4 linked regions of the Homo sapiens genome follow. The protein of the gene in region 2 purifies or fractionates together with the protein of the main gene of each other region. This does not show direct contact. Each region holds a gene or a part of one and is shown on either strand. Other genes may lie near its edges.

Region 1 (4,300 bases), on a different chromosome or scaffold from region 2:
CAGGTAGAATAAGCCAAAGCGGGTTTTGTGAAAGTCCCTGTGTTGCAGGATACCTGCAAATCTGCTTTGAGCATGGCATTAATGTGCAAGGTCTATAACCTTCCCACCCAAATGGGATGGGCTGCTATCAGACTCCTCACACTGAAAAGCAATGGGCACAAACTCATGTGATGCCTTTTAACCCAGGACATTTTGATTTGTAAACTCCTCAAATACCACAACAAAATGGGAAAAATTTAGTTACAAAGACTTTTTTTTTCATTTTTAACCTTTTGCCTGGATAGTTAATTCATTTCAAGAAACAATAAGCTGCAACAAGGGCTTATTTATTACTTTAACATTAATTTCCCCCAATTAATAAGACCTAAATTCTCATGCATAAACAGGAAAACAAATTCACTGCAAATTTTAAAGGAAAACTCATTGAGAGAAGAATGTTAAACGATACTTCAAAATACGGTAACTTCCAAACTCCATCAAACATTAATTATTGAAATTCTACTTAAAAAAGTTCTCCACTAAAAAGTACTGTAAATATTCCATTATTATAGGCATGTGGCCAAAATGTGAAAAAATAATCAAAGATACTTTTTCAATTAAGGCCCTACACAGCTCAGAAATGGTGATAAATCTGTTAATTTAAAACAGTCAATATCACTGGGATAAGAGTTTATCAAACTCAAAGGCAATTTTCAGTGAGAATAACACTAAGGTGTAAATTTCATGGCAAAAGAAAAGATGTCAGACTTAAACCACATTAACTATGAAGAACTAGACAACTAATGTGTCATTATATATATAAAAAAGATGACTGTGGATGGGGACAAGTGGGGAGGCAGACAGTGGCAACCTCTGGAAGATGGAATCTCTTCTCTCTGCTGGTCCTAGAAGAGAAAAGAGACACCAATAAGCATCAACACACTGTCCGAATTCCTCCCCACCCGAGACCCACCAGTCCACAGGTGTTTCTCAACCTTGGGGCCAACCTCACCTTCAGAGATGGTATTCAGTACAAAGAGGGCGTCAAAACCCCCGCCTTATCTTAACTTGCCTAGTGCCCTCTTTAAAAAATAAAAACTATCAAAATATATTACTTTTTTTATAACTATAATCTGCATCAAGTGGAACTGAAAGCAGCCGGGCTGAAATTAGTAACTCTTACAGTGCATAGGGATAATAGCTTTCCAAAACCTTTGCACTCAACTATTTTAAATTATAAAGAGGTCATTATGTGTAACTTAAAAGTTTTGAATTCTACATGAGTTGGTGTGTGTGTACAAAGCAAGGGGCTACAACCAAATTTTGGGGTTGTAACTGTTGTTTGTAATGACTTCCATTCAATGTATGCAGGTCATGGAGAAGATGGGGAGATGGAGTTGTTTACAGCAAGCTGACAGGGAAATTAATCAAGTTGTACTATTTGAAACAAGTTATCCTCACCCTGAAAAGCACCCCTAAAACAACTGAAATTCAAAAAATAATGATACAAACAAGTAATTTAGAGTGACGGCAAATAATTTCCTCAATTCTTTAAAACAAATAGAATTCTACAGAATCTGCTTTTCCTAGGTAGTAGATCTAGCTGGTAGTTCCAAACTAAGTGGAACATTCTTACCCAACCTACTACAGCTTACACAACTCTGATTCACTGTTATTTTCTCACATATCCTTGTGGAAGACCTAGTCACAAGAAATTATGTCCAAAGCAAATCCTATAGGAAGTAATTTTTAAATTCAGACACTCGAGACTAAGATCTAAATGTACACAATAGGGAGTTAACTGATTTAAATTAAATAAACAGTATCTAAGTTTCCACGTTACCAGTCATTGCTTTTCTAGGGATTGTGCTGGGCACTGGCGGATACAAAAACTCGAGTGAGACACAATTTTGGACGTAAAATGGCAATGAAAGCGCATTTCTGGAAGCCCTGAAAGTCTGAAAACAGAGGCTCTTCTGGACTCACAAGCTCTGGGTCAAGAAGATATATTTTCATCTTGTTAAGACGGATTTTGCAACTAAGACTGGTAAAGCATAAGATAGAAGAGTGCGTACCCTGTTGTATTTGCATGGTTCTTGCCAGCAACCAAGACATGTAATGAATCTAAGTCTCATCACCTGACAGAGGTTTAGGGAGGGAGAGCCATACATGAAAAGACTGAGAAATCTGGATTGATATTTGGTTTTGTGAAACCATAAATAATTTTAGAGTTGGAAAAGACTTAGACAACACTATTAACAAAGGAATTCAGAAACGCAAACATTAGTAAGTCATCTGCACAACGCCTACTCCTTTATTTACGAAACACTAAAATAACCAAAGTAAAAACAAATGTTTGACCAAGCCGACCACGTGTTTTTATACTACCTTTTCTTAGTGCCTCAAATGTCTTCCTAAATCAAGTGCACCTGCTGCAAAGATGGAACATTCTGGTGCGAGAGCCCAGAGCAGAGCACGTTTTCGTTCCCCAAGCTGAGGCAACTGCGACTCGCCCGCGCGACCGGCAAGGCCACCTCACAGACAAGGCTGTCCTCGACCCAGCCCGCCGCCGCGCGGCCGCCCACGAGCCTTGGGCCCCACGCGCGCGAGCGCCGCCCGCGCCCCCGCCGACCTCCCACCGCCAGCGGCTCCGCACCCGGCGCCCGCAGCCCTCGTACCTCACACCGCTGCTCCGAAAGCCCCGGAACGCACTCCCGGGCTCTCCCGGTGCCCTTACGGAGGGTGCTGTGCTTCTGCCCAACGCCGGCGCTCGGCCAAGGCGGCCGCGGAGCAGCGAGAAGCCGCGGACCGGCACCGTCATGGCCGCGGATCCCCGGCTTCCGGACTGGGGCTCCACCTCCCGCGACTCCAGTCCTCGCGGCTGGAGGCCTGGCTCCGCCCTCACCCGGGCTGGCAGGGCAGCAAGTAGCGCTTCCCAGCCAGGTTCCGGCAGACACGCAGAGTGGGGTAAAGAGCGGTTCCCAGGACCGGGGACGGAACTGACAGAGTGCCGGGTCCGCAGGGGGCGGGGCCAGGACCCAAGTCCCGGGCCCTCTGAGGATGTGGAAGCGTGCAGTGTGGCCTGGCGACTGGGCCCCGCACCCAGCCAACATATAGCTGGCATTCCCATAGCGACGGCACAGAGAAGGCCTCCAAACTATCACTTTAGGCAGCACGCCCCACTTTCCACCAAGCCAGAGATCCTGCCCAACAGTCTCCGTGACTACGTGGAATTGGATTTAAAGCAGGAAAGAAGTAATAGGTTCATTGTTTCCCACTTCCTTTGTGAGATTCCTTGGAAGTTGGAGAAAAGAACAAAGGTGTGTGGAGAAGGAGCAAAACCTGGCTGAACAAGGAAGGTCTGGACTTTAGGATTTCTATACTTCTACTTTATCATCTCCACTTTTGGAAGGAAATATTGACCAATATCTGTCTTTTCCTGAGTTATGATCAAGTCGATGCAGGCTAAGAACCCTGCATTGTGTGGTGAGCTTGTGTGGTGAGGAAGCAAAATATCTGCTCCCTCTGAAAAAGTAAAACATTAGACTGTCCATTCATTTTGCAAATTAAGACAGACACACAAAAAACAGTCACAGATAAAACCAGCTGGGAAGTTAACAGGAAACAACTTTTCTCCCAAGGTCAGGCTGCTGCTGTTGAGTCAGAACAACGTCTTTCATAGCTGCACTTTTACTGAGAAAACTTGTTTTTTAAAATCATAGACTGTCAGAAAATATGCTCTTTAAAATCATATCAATAAGAATGGGATACCCTACTCTTTCCTGGCTGATCTAAATCCATTTGACACAAATAAGCAGCCTAGAAGAAAATACAGGAAAAAATCTAGGTGACCTTGGGTTTGGCAATGAGACTTTAGATAAAACACTTAAATCACAATTCATAAAAGAAAAAAACAATTTAAACTTCTGCCATGCAAAAGACACTGTTAATAAAGAAACAAATCACATACTGGGAGAAAATATTCGCAAAACATTTTTACAAGACTTACACCCAAAATATACGAAGAACTCTTGAAACTCAACAATTAAAGAAAAAAGAAAAGCAACTCAGTTAAAAGTGAGCAAAAGATCTGAAAACACCCACCAAAAAAGGCATACAGAGGTCAAAAAAAATGGAAAAATATTCAATATCATTTATCATTAAGGAAATACAAATTAAAACAACAGTGAGATACCACTACACTCCCATTAGAACCGCTGAAGTCCAAAAAATTGATAATACGAAATGCTGGCAAGGATGTGTGGCAACAGGAACTCTCATTCATTGTTGGTGAATAAAAAAATGATTCAGTCACTTTGGA
Region 2 (3,500 bases):
GCAGTGGCACTATCTCAGCTCACTGCAACCTCCGCCTCCCGAGTTCAAGCAATTCTCCTGCCTCAAGCTCCCAAATAGCTGGGACTAGAGGTGCGTGCCACCACGCCTGGCTACTTTTTGTATTTTTTCAGTACAGACGGGGTTTCACCATATTGGCCAGGCTGGTCTTGAACTCCTGACTTTCTAATCTACCCACCTCGGCCTCCCAAAGTGCTAGGATTACGGGCTTGAGCCACCACGCCTGGCATATTTTTTCTTTTTTTTATATAGGGTCTCACTCCTGTTGCTGAGGCAGGAGTGCAGTGGTACAATTACAGCTTCATTGCAGCCTCGACCTCACAGGCCCAAGTGATCCTCCCACCTCATTTAAAAATTTTTTTGTATAAACAAGGTCTCACTATGTTGCCCAGGCTGGTCTTGAACTTATGGACTCAAGCAATCCTTCCAGAGCTGGGATTACAGGCATACGCCACTGCGCCTGGCCTTTTTATTTTCAAACAGTTACTAAGCGGTTATAAAAAATACTCATGTTGTTTGGGTATAACTATTTAACAAAACTATTAGGTATTTCTTTTGGCCTATGGGTGTCAAAAAAAATTTACTGATAATAACCAGTGTTGTTAAGGATGTAGAGAAACTGGAATCCTTGTACATTGCTGGAAAGAATGTAAAATGAGACAGCTGCTATGGAAAATGGTATGGTGGTTCTTCAAAAAATAAAAGAATTACCATATGATCCAGCAATCCCACTTCTGGGCATATACCCAAAAGAATTCAGAGCTGGGACTTGAACAGATCCATGTTCATAGCAGCATTATTCACAATAGTCAAAGGATGGCAGCAACCCAAGTGTCCATGGACAGATGGATAAACAAAATATTGTGGTATATGCATACAATGAATATTACTCATCTTTAAAAAGGAAGGAAATTCTGACACATGCTACAATATGGATAAACCTCGAAGACATTATGCTAAGTGAAATAAGCCAGTCACAAAAGCACAAATATTACATGAGTCTACTTGTATGAGGTACCAGTAGTAGTCAAATTCATAAAGTAGAATGATGGCTGTCAGGGGCTGAGGGATGAGGGGGATGGGGGAGGGAAGATGGAGAGTTAGTGTTGAATGTGTATAGAGTTTGAGAAGATGAAAAAGTTCTGGAGATGGATGTTGGTGATGGCTGTGGAACAATGGATATTCTTAATGCTACAGGACTGTATGCTTAAAAATAGTTAAAATGGTAAATTTTGTGTCATATATATTTTATCACAACAAAATTTTTTTTTTTTACTGAAACACTAAGACCACTATAAACTGAGAAAGTTTGGGGATCAATGTGCATAGAGTACCTAGATGACTCCTGTTAACTATTATTCACATGGATACAATTTTACCTCTTATTCCCAATGAGCATGATAACCATGTTGGAACTAGAGTGCTGCCGGGCATCCTCTAACCATGAGGTCAGGTGGTTGAAGGTTTCACGCCTACAGCAGAAAAATTTAGAATGTGGGTCAGAGACACATTTCAAAAGGCCAAAACAACTCCAAGCGTATACGAAAAGAGGGGAAGCCATACGTGTAAAGAAAAATATTAGAGAGGCCATTCCTAGTTAACATCCTTAACAGAATCAGTAGATAGAAAAAAAAAAAAAGCTTTAGAGGATTTAGGGAAGAATCTCCCTCCCATGCACCAGATCTGGCTCACCTTGTAATGTCGTACACCAGCAGTGCTCCAGCTGCTCCCCTGTAGTAGGAACGGGTGATAGAACGGAAGGATTCTTGCCCAGCCTTTCCCACCAACATGGCAACAAAAAATCCCAACAAAACCAGGTTATTTCCACAGAACCGACTTGATCACATGCCACCCTAATACAAAGGACTTAACTAAAAAAAGAATTTCTATTACGAAAAGAGAATTAGGGAAAGAAAACATGCCTGCCCGAGAAGAAACCCAAGTGGGAAATCAATATTTTTCTATGGGAGTGCATTGATATTTTGGGCAGTCACTTACTCTTCCTGAGAGACTGTCCATCAGATTAGTGGATGTTTAGCATCCTAGATCCCAGTCACTAAATACCTGTGGCACCCCAGTCAGCACGATAAAGACGATGAAGACATTTGCATACATTTCCCAATATCCTCATAAAAGAACAACTGGAAATAGGACTGGAAACGGAGTGTATGTCATTTTTTTCAATCCCAAATATGATATTGAACACACCATATTAATCTTTCTGTTCCCATTTCTTTATCTGTAAAAAGGAAAGTTATCTTAGAATGCCAAAACCTGGTCTAATAGAAATTTCATTCCAATGAATCAATATAAAAATTAGATTAAAAGCACTTCAACTGATTATCTTCTAACTGACCTTTAGTGTTCCACTGATAATGCAAGACTACCTAGATGTCCCTTGCTGGGCTTCTGTCATGGGAAATAGGAATAACAAACAGAGAAAGAAGCCCAGGGCCCAGCATAGAGTTTTCCTAGAAAAATCCAAATGTTCACACTCTAATCTCATTTCCAGTTGGACAAAGATATTAAGTTCTATTTAAAACTGAGTAATTTATTAATGCCCCCATAATACTGGGTACTTTTGCTTTCTTGATGGACTAGTTCTTTTTTTTTCCTTTAGGGAAAACAAAAACATTTTTTAAATAATATGAATACCCTGTACATTGAATCTATCCTATTAAGAAAGTTTTCACATTCTTGAAATAATTTATCCTTACATCCCTACATAACAGGAGGTAAGACTATAATTTATAGGTTACAAATGGGAGAATCATGATTAAGGATGTGGGAAAATAAATGGCTTTCTCATAGTATAATACCAGTAACAGTGGTAACACTAATTATAACACTGCAATAGTACTATAAACTACTTTTTGGCATATAAAATGTGCTACGAACTTTAAGAGACAATTACATATATTATTTCATTTACTTCTCTTAGCAACCCTGGGGCCGATATTATTATTCCCTTTTTTTTTTTCTTTTTTTTTTTGAGAGGGAGTCTCGCTCTGTTGCCCGGGCTGGAGTGCAGTGGCGCAATCTTGGCTCACTGCAACCTCCGCCTCCCAGGTTCAAGCAATTCTCCTTGCTTCAGCCTCCCAATTAGCTGGGATTACAGGCGCCCACCACCATGCCTGGCTAATTTTTTTGTATTTTTGGTAGAGATGGGTTTTCACTATGTTGGCTAGGCTGGTCTTGAACTCCTGACCTCATGACCCACCCGCCTCGGCCTCCCAAAGTGCTGGGATTACAGGCATGAGCCACCGTGCCTGGCTTATTATTTCCTTTTAAAAATGGGGAAAATGAGGCTCACACAAGTTTAATAAACGGCCCCAAATCATAAAGCTTATTAAGTGCTAGAGCCATAATTTAAACTTAGGATCTTAGTACTTCCTAGGACAAAAACTTGTCCTCTTAGCCACTATATCATATAACCTAAACTGGGGTTTGTAGGTGAGAAGAGAATTCCAGTATACTAACTC
Region 3 (3,500 bases), on a different chromosome or scaffold from region 2:
ACTGCACTCCAGCCTGGGCAACAGAGTGAGACCTGGTCTCAAAAAACAAAAAAATTATATATATATAAAAAATTGTTTATATATACGTATATCATATATATGTGTATATATACATATATATATACAACTGACAAAAGTATTTTTCATCTTGAAGACTAGTTTTAACAGCCACATGTATATATTTATGTATGTATATGTTAATATATTTGTTAATATATGAGTATATTAACAAATTTTATAGTTATATATAAATATGCATATATTTGCATATACTTATATTTGCTATATTTTAATATATATGTATATAGTATATATATATAGGTATACACACACACGTGCGCAAGTGTGCACACACACTCATGGTGCACACACATGCATGTATGTCCCAGGGTCCCATGTTGGATATACCAGGGCCCCAGAATCTACACTTTTAACAAGTACTCCAGCTGATTTCCATAAAGATGGCGTCTAGGTATTTGGGGACCATTGTGCAAGGGAACATGGTACCCTTTACCTGGAGATAAAGACCAAGGGTGAATGGGAACAAGTTCCTGGTTGTGATCTCCCCCATTGCCTTACTGGTAATAGTCCTGAAACAGTGTCCCTGCCCCCTCATCTGGTGTGCATCTGGCTCAAAGCAAAAATGTAGATATATTTTCTCTTGCTGTTTTTATTAAATTCTGTTTCCTTAAGAAGCTGATGCCAGAATCAACAGAAGTATTCTACTTTACACATTTAAACTTCTTGCTACAATCCTTTTCCTCTTCCCTCTTAACGTATTCCCGAATTTGGACTGAAGTGAAACTCCCCAGGATTATCCTCCAGTGTTTTGAATTCTCCAGGGAAACATTTTGGATAGCAGGATGAGTGTTCTGGAGTCAGGCAGATTGGGTTTGAGTCCTATTCTATTTGTTGGTAAATTGGCCAAAGTTTATTAAGGAGGGTTCCAGACATCAGTTTTCTCATTAATAAAATGGAGGTGGTTATAGCTTCTTGAGGTTGTGTGAGAGTTAGAAATAATATATATAAAACACTCAGGACAGTAGCCCCTATTAAGCCCTCAACAGATTTAAAAAATACATTTTCAAGGTCATTATAGGTCACAAAGAAGGAAGTCATGCCTTTGTGGAACTATTCAGCAGTAAACAGCAAAATGCATGTGCATGTGAGAGATGAGGGATGAGTTCCTTAAGCCATGGGCTGGTGAATATGTAAGCAAATTTAAATAACTTGCCGACAAGCTCCTTTCTCCAAAAATGTATTTCCCTGGCAGCAATTGTTGGGTCCCTCTCTTCTTTTCAATAGCCAGATCTAGAATAGGTTTCCTTTAGTAACTTGTTTCCCTATTTGGTTATATATATATATATATATATATATATTTAAATTTACATAAGCACTTATTTGGTTCTTAAAATGAATAGGAAAGGAAAAACCCCAGAATCTTTGTGATCTGGTTAGAGGCTGGGTGTATAGCACAACCAGGCTAACTCTTAAAAAATTATGTAGGCCAGGTGTGGTGGCTCAAGCCTGTAATCTCAGCACTTTGGGAGGCTGAGGCGGGCAGATCACTTGAGGTAAGGAGTTCAAGACCAGCCTTGCCAACATGGTGAAACGCTGTCTCTACTAAAAATACAAAAAAATTATCCGGGTGTGGTGGTGCATGCCTGTAGTCCCAGCTACTTGGGAGGCTGAGGCAGGAGAATTGCTTGAACCTGGGAGGCGGAGGCTGCAGTGAGCTGAGATTATGCCTGTCTTTGGTAAAAACAAAACAAAACAAAACAAAAAACCACCAAAAATTTTTTTTTAATTTTAAAAAGGACAAGAAATAAAAAGTCAGTCCACTTACTGATAGAGAATTGTAGTTGAAACTAGTGCTTTGAGGTACAACACCCTTCATTCACTTAGTATTCTGCCTTCATAGCCTGATGGCTAGCTGTCCCTGGGTAAATTTTGTAACTTCTATGAACCTCACTTTCTTCAAATGCAAAGTGAGGCTAATAGTTCTGACTTTACTGGGCTGTTGGGAGCATTAAATAAAATAATGTGTATGAAGCACTTATACTTTAACTTCAGTAAATATTTGTTGAAGAATAAATAATTTAGCCTGAACTTCAATATATAATGTGGAATAAAAAATTGGGGGTAAATGAGATGTCAGAAAATGAAGTATAAATCCTGAACTAGGAGGTAAAGGATGGTGTTTTAGCCTACCCAAGTTAATTTATATGTAGCTTTTTTGTTTTTCTTTAGGAACCAGGCTGTGGCCAGGAACTTTTATATTCAGCTCAGCTTAGATTTTAAAAACAGCATCATTCATTTCTGTTTTCCTTCAAATGCAGGTGCACCCATCATTATGTCTTTCCCACACTTTTACCAAGCAGATGAGAGGTTTGTTTCTGCCATAGAAGGCATGCACCCAAATCAGGAAGACCATGAGACATTTGTGGACATTAATCCTGTGAGTACATACTTCCTCCTGGTAAAAGAGCATATGTTTTATTCTGTCTATACATTGTTCACCAGTTTAGTCCTGAGCCTTCTTTAAAAATATCCTTACTTTCATATACATATTCAAGTGGGAGAAATTCAGCTCAGTGCTGATGGAGGCATTGTCTCATAGCCCTGTAATTAGAAGGCTGAATTTTGTGGATTGAATAGCAGAAATACGAGCAAACCTGCCTTTAACAAAAAGCAACAGTGAAAACTCAGTTATTGGAAACTACTGATGTACCCATATAACCTGGTCAATCTTCTGATGCTAGCCTTGGACCTCAACATATATTTATTTCTCCCCTTGGGACACAGATCGATAAGGTTAAAGATGTCCCTTTGCTTCCTCACTGCCAGGAATATTTTGGTTGAAATATGAATATGTATATTAACCTCAGTCACTTTTGGCAAACTTCTTTCTACAGGTTATTTGAGAGTTTATTATATTATTAATTGTAAAGGTATCAGATATACATAGAGGAGACATACACACGTGTGTGTGTGTGTGTGTGTGTGTATAATACACATTTACTCCTGTATTCATAGACGAGAAAAACAAAAACCATGCTAACCATGTCTTCATTTTTGGAATTTGAACATTATGGACCAATAAAAAAAAAAAACAAGAACATTCTTTTAGCACAGTATTTTATGGGTACTTCACACTCTTAGCTGCATACATTGCATTTGTATCTGAGAAACCAGTGATCTTATGCTCTGGTGAATAAAATCGTGTGTGGTTTTCTCCCTTTTCTCTTAGCCATCAGCTGATCAGTTCCCTTGGATCAGCCAAACTGTTAGCAGTGCTTGTCACCAAGGGACGAACACAGTCTTATAACCTTAGTGCAAAGATGGAGCTGCCCTAAGGATGACAAGTGCTGCAGCTGTGCCCCATGGCTACGCTAGGCGGGCCCTATACTAGGATGCCACTCTCTGGCAGTGACCACCACCCTCTTCTTAGCTCTCTGGACAACTGCCTGGAAATCCAGACCTGACAGGCTATCTTTTAG
Region 4 (3,500 bases), on a different chromosome or scaffold from region 2:
AGCCTCCCGAGTAGGTGGGATCATAGGCACCTGGCACCATGCCCAGCTAATTTTTGTGTTTTTAGTAGAGACGGGGTTTCACCATGTTGGCCAGGCTGGTCTCAAACTCCTGACCTCAAATGATCGGCCTGTCTTGGCCTCCCAAAATGCTGGGATTATAGGTGTGAGCCACTGTGCCCAGCCTCTAATCACCTATTCTTATAACTGATGTGTTAATAATTTCCTCATGAGTCCTTATGAAATGATATATATTTTTTAAACCTCTGTCTCTAAATAAGAGGTCCTAATGTTTAAGCAATACAAACAAAAATAATATTGGGTGTCTACTATGTGTTATATACTCTGCTAAGTACTTTATATAATTTACCTTTAATCTCAAGAGAATAGTGATTATATTTAATCATTACTTGTTTATCTAGCATAATATCTGGCACATGGCAGGGCTCAACAAATATTTGCTGAATGACTGAATGAATAAACAAATAAGTAAACAATCGGACAGACAACTCTCCAAGTTGTTCTCTCCAAGGTCAGCGTTCTTATCCCAGTTTCACTGGTGAGGAGGATAACTGACTTCCCCAAGGCTCCATGGCTACAAGCCCAGGTAGCTGAGATTGATTCAAAGCCAACCCTGCTGGGCCCCACAGTCGGGATCCTTCTCACCACACAAAGATAACCCTGAGCTAAATCTTTACCTACCTTTTCTGGGCTTCTTGTTTGCTGCAGCATGTTTCACAATAATATTTTTGTTCACTACACAGTGTTTCTGTGTTGCTGAAGTCTCTGTAGAGGAAAATATTTCCATCTTTAAAAAATGTCCAAATCTACTTGGTATACTATGTTTTAAATCCCTCAATTAACCTGTAGGGTAATTTTTAAGTAAAAATGGAAGAAGAAGTAATCAGAAAAAAATCCTACTTAAGACTAGGATGGTAGAGAAACTACAGGATGAAAAACAAAAATAAGCTAAGACTGGGTGCCATTACGGTGGTAGACATGCTCTTTTCATCGAATCATGAATTTACCATGAGAGATTCAAATATAGTTTTATTTAATGGGACACAGGCAGATATAAATTAGGGTTTCCAACTGGATTCAGAAAAAAAACTCATGATTTAATGGAGAATACCTATAAGCTAGAAATTAAAATCGTAATAGAAAAATACTGTTGAGTAAAAGTTCACCGTAAACACTAAAACTTAGATCCAGAAAGTAAATCACATAACATGCAAGGTGACATTATTGTGTAGTTAATGAAAAATAGTATTTCTCTGGTAGTCCATATTTTCAAAGAGCATGAAAGTAAAGATAATGAAATTTAAACCACATACAAAACTGCCCTCTTAGTGAACTAAAGAAATCCTGAATTAATCAGATGACCACCTCCTACCAACCCCTGCTCCCCACTGCTCCCCCGCCGGAGGAGATGAACTTTTGCCTGCCTCCTTTGGAGAACAAAAGCCATTGTGTTTGTCATATGTGTATCTGCCTTATCATGAGGTTCTACTCTGCTACTTACGGTTTTTATTTTTTAAATGTCATGGTTTTTCATTCTTTTCCAGCCATCAAGATTCTACTTAACATTTCTGTGGTACTGCTTCAAAGGCTGAAAAGAACATCTGGACTAATACCCTATAGTTTTGAAAAATTCTGGGGCATTTCCTTGTTCAGTGTCCTAGTACCATAATGACCAGATTTTATTAAACAGAAAATGTTATTTAAAATGTGTTAAATGATTCTACCACTTACACAGAACACATCAAAAGAAAACACAGATTCTTTCATTCATTAAGTCCCCAAATGTTTCCTGCCAGTCCTCTGGGCTAGGTTCTGGGGATCCACAGAGAATAACTGCCTTCATACGGCTCACACTTTAACAGAGATGTGTGCAAATGAACCACTGACAACATGAAATGATCAGTGCAGCTTCAACAGAAAGCATTACATGATTCCCCTGCTGAAATCCTCCAGCAGTTTCCAGTGCACTTATCCACCCTGCCTCCTTCTCTCTGCTCCAGCCACACTGGCCCTGGGAAATCCTCTTCTCACCTTAGGGTGATTGCAGGTGCTATTTTCTCAGCACTGAGAGCTTCCTCCCAGAGGCTTCCATGGCTGGCTAACCCGGTTGTTCAGCACTCAGCCTAAACATCCCCTCTTTGGAGAAAACTTCTCTGGCCACTTTGTCCAAGCCTATCCAGCCCCTATCACATTGCCGTCTTATTTCTTCCCAGCATCTGAAACCATTCCTCTGTTCATTTGATTACTTGCCTCCCCTCTATGTGGGCAGTGCACTTGTCATTCCTATATCCCCAGCATGACACACAATGGAACACATTAATATTTGTTGGTTGAATGAATGAACCAACCAAGACAGAAGCAGGTGTAAAGTCCAGGAGAAAGCACAGAGAAAGAGGGAAAGTGTGCCAGGTGAACAAGTGAATAAGGGTCAATGACTCCTGAGAGAGAACACTGCAGTGCAGAGGCCTGGAGGTAGGGAACAGCAGCGGTGACGTATTAGTCTGTTCTCATGCTGCTAATAAAGACATACCTGAGACTGGGTAATTTATAAAGAAAAAGAGGTTTAATGAACTCACAGTTTCACATAGCTGGGGAGGCCTCACAATCATGGCAGAAGGCAAAGGAGGAGCAAAGTCATGTCTTACATGGCAGCAGACAAGAGACAGCAGGTGCAGGGGAACTCCCATTTATAAAACCATCAGATCTTGTGAGACTCATTCACTACCACGAGAATAGTATGGGAAAAACTGCTCCCATGATTCAATTATCTCCGCCTGGCCCCACCTTTAACACGTGGGAATTATTACAATCCAATGAGATTTGGGTGCAGACACAGCCAAACCATATCAGGCAGCAAGTCACATAGCCTGGACTATGCTACCAAGAAGCCAGCATGAACCCTAACCAACAGTCTCAACAAAGAAACGACATAATCAGGTAGTGCTTTTTAGAAATTCCACTTTTGACAGCATGGTGGAGGGGGCATTGGAGAGGGATGAAAGGCAAGAAAGCCATTAGAATGCAAATGTACTAAACTTTCAGATTTCAAGTACATGGTGCATAAAACAAACTCATACTTAGCTGAATGAATACTTCAATTGAGTAAGTGCTGTGGAATCTTGTTTTGGCTGCATGGGATTGACTGGAGTGGAACGGGGAGCCAGAGGCAGGGAGATGAGTGTGGGTGTGATGGAGCTTCATATCCTCCCAATGTCTACTGCAGAGAAGCTGTACTACCAAGCTAAAGGGTCACAATAGCCAAAGAAAGGCCAGCAACAAATAAGGAATCATTCATTCCTACTCATTCTTATTTTCCCCAAAAACTTATTTGATTTGTAGACCCAGACAGGTGGAAATATAGCAGAAGTTAATACCTAATGTAAAGACCCATTTTACAAAGAAGCTTGCTGACAGAGTAATGCTCTTAGGGCATCCATGAGTTGAGAATTAGAAAATGAAGGTAAGTTAGGAGAAGGCGAGGA

What was found.
Region 1: the proteins of RAB2B (region 2) and MTHFD2L purify together in Homo sapiens (affinity purification with mass spectrometry; one large-scale study listed by BioGRID and IntAct). This does not show direct contact.
Region 3: the proteins of RAB2B (region 2) and SCARB2 purify together in Homo sapiens (co-immunoprecipitation; 2 studies listed by BioGRID and IntAct, with this or other methods). This does not show direct contact.
Region 4: the proteins of RAB2B (region 2) and USP46 purify together in Homo sapiens (co-immunoprecipitation; one large-scale study listed by IntAct). This does not show direct contact.

Annotation. Positions count from the first base shown.
Region 1 is NC_000004.12:74,156,639-74,160,938, reverse strand, and holds the start of MTHFD2L (bifunctional methylenetetrahydrofolate dehydrogenase/cyclohydrolase 2, mitochondrial), read right to left. Parts: upstream 2,801-4,300; coding exon 2,658-2,800; intron 885-2,657; coding exon of another isoform or gene 791-884; exon of another isoform or gene 1-790. UniProt on the Homo sapiens protein: Bifunctional mitochondrial folate-interconverting enzyme that has both NAD/NADP-dependent methylenetetrahydrofolate dehydrogenase and methenyltetrahydrofolate cyclohydrolase activities.
Region 2 is NC_000014.9:21,466,960-21,470,459, forward strand, and holds part of RAB2B (ras-related protein Rab-2B), read right to left. Parts: intron 2,258-3,500; exon of another isoform or gene 2,250-2,257; coding exon of another isoform or gene 2,227-2,249; intron 2,221-2,226; exon of another isoform or gene 2,134-2,220; coding exon of another isoform or gene 2,083-2,133; intron 1,794-2,082; coding exon 1,711-1,793; intron 1,491-1,710; coding exon 1,398-1,490; intron 1-1,397. UniProt on the Homo sapiens protein: The small GTPases Rab are key regulators of intracellular membrane trafficking, from the formation of transport vesicles to their fusion with membranes. Rabs cycle between active GTP-bound and inactive GDP-bound states.
Region 3 is NC_000004.12:76,168,825-76,172,324, reverse strand, and holds part of SCARB2 (lysosome membrane protein 2), read left to right. Parts: intron 1-2,339; coding exon 2,340-2,458; intron 2,459-3,500.
Region 4 is NC_000004.12:52,603,802-52,607,301, forward strand, and holds part of USP46 (ubiquitin carboxyl-terminal hydrolase 46), read right to left. Parts: intron 784-3,500; coding exon 700-783; intron 1-699. UniProt on the Homo sapiens protein: Deubiquitinating enzyme that plays a role in behavior, possibly by regulating GABA action. May act by mediating the deubiquitination of GAD1/GAD67.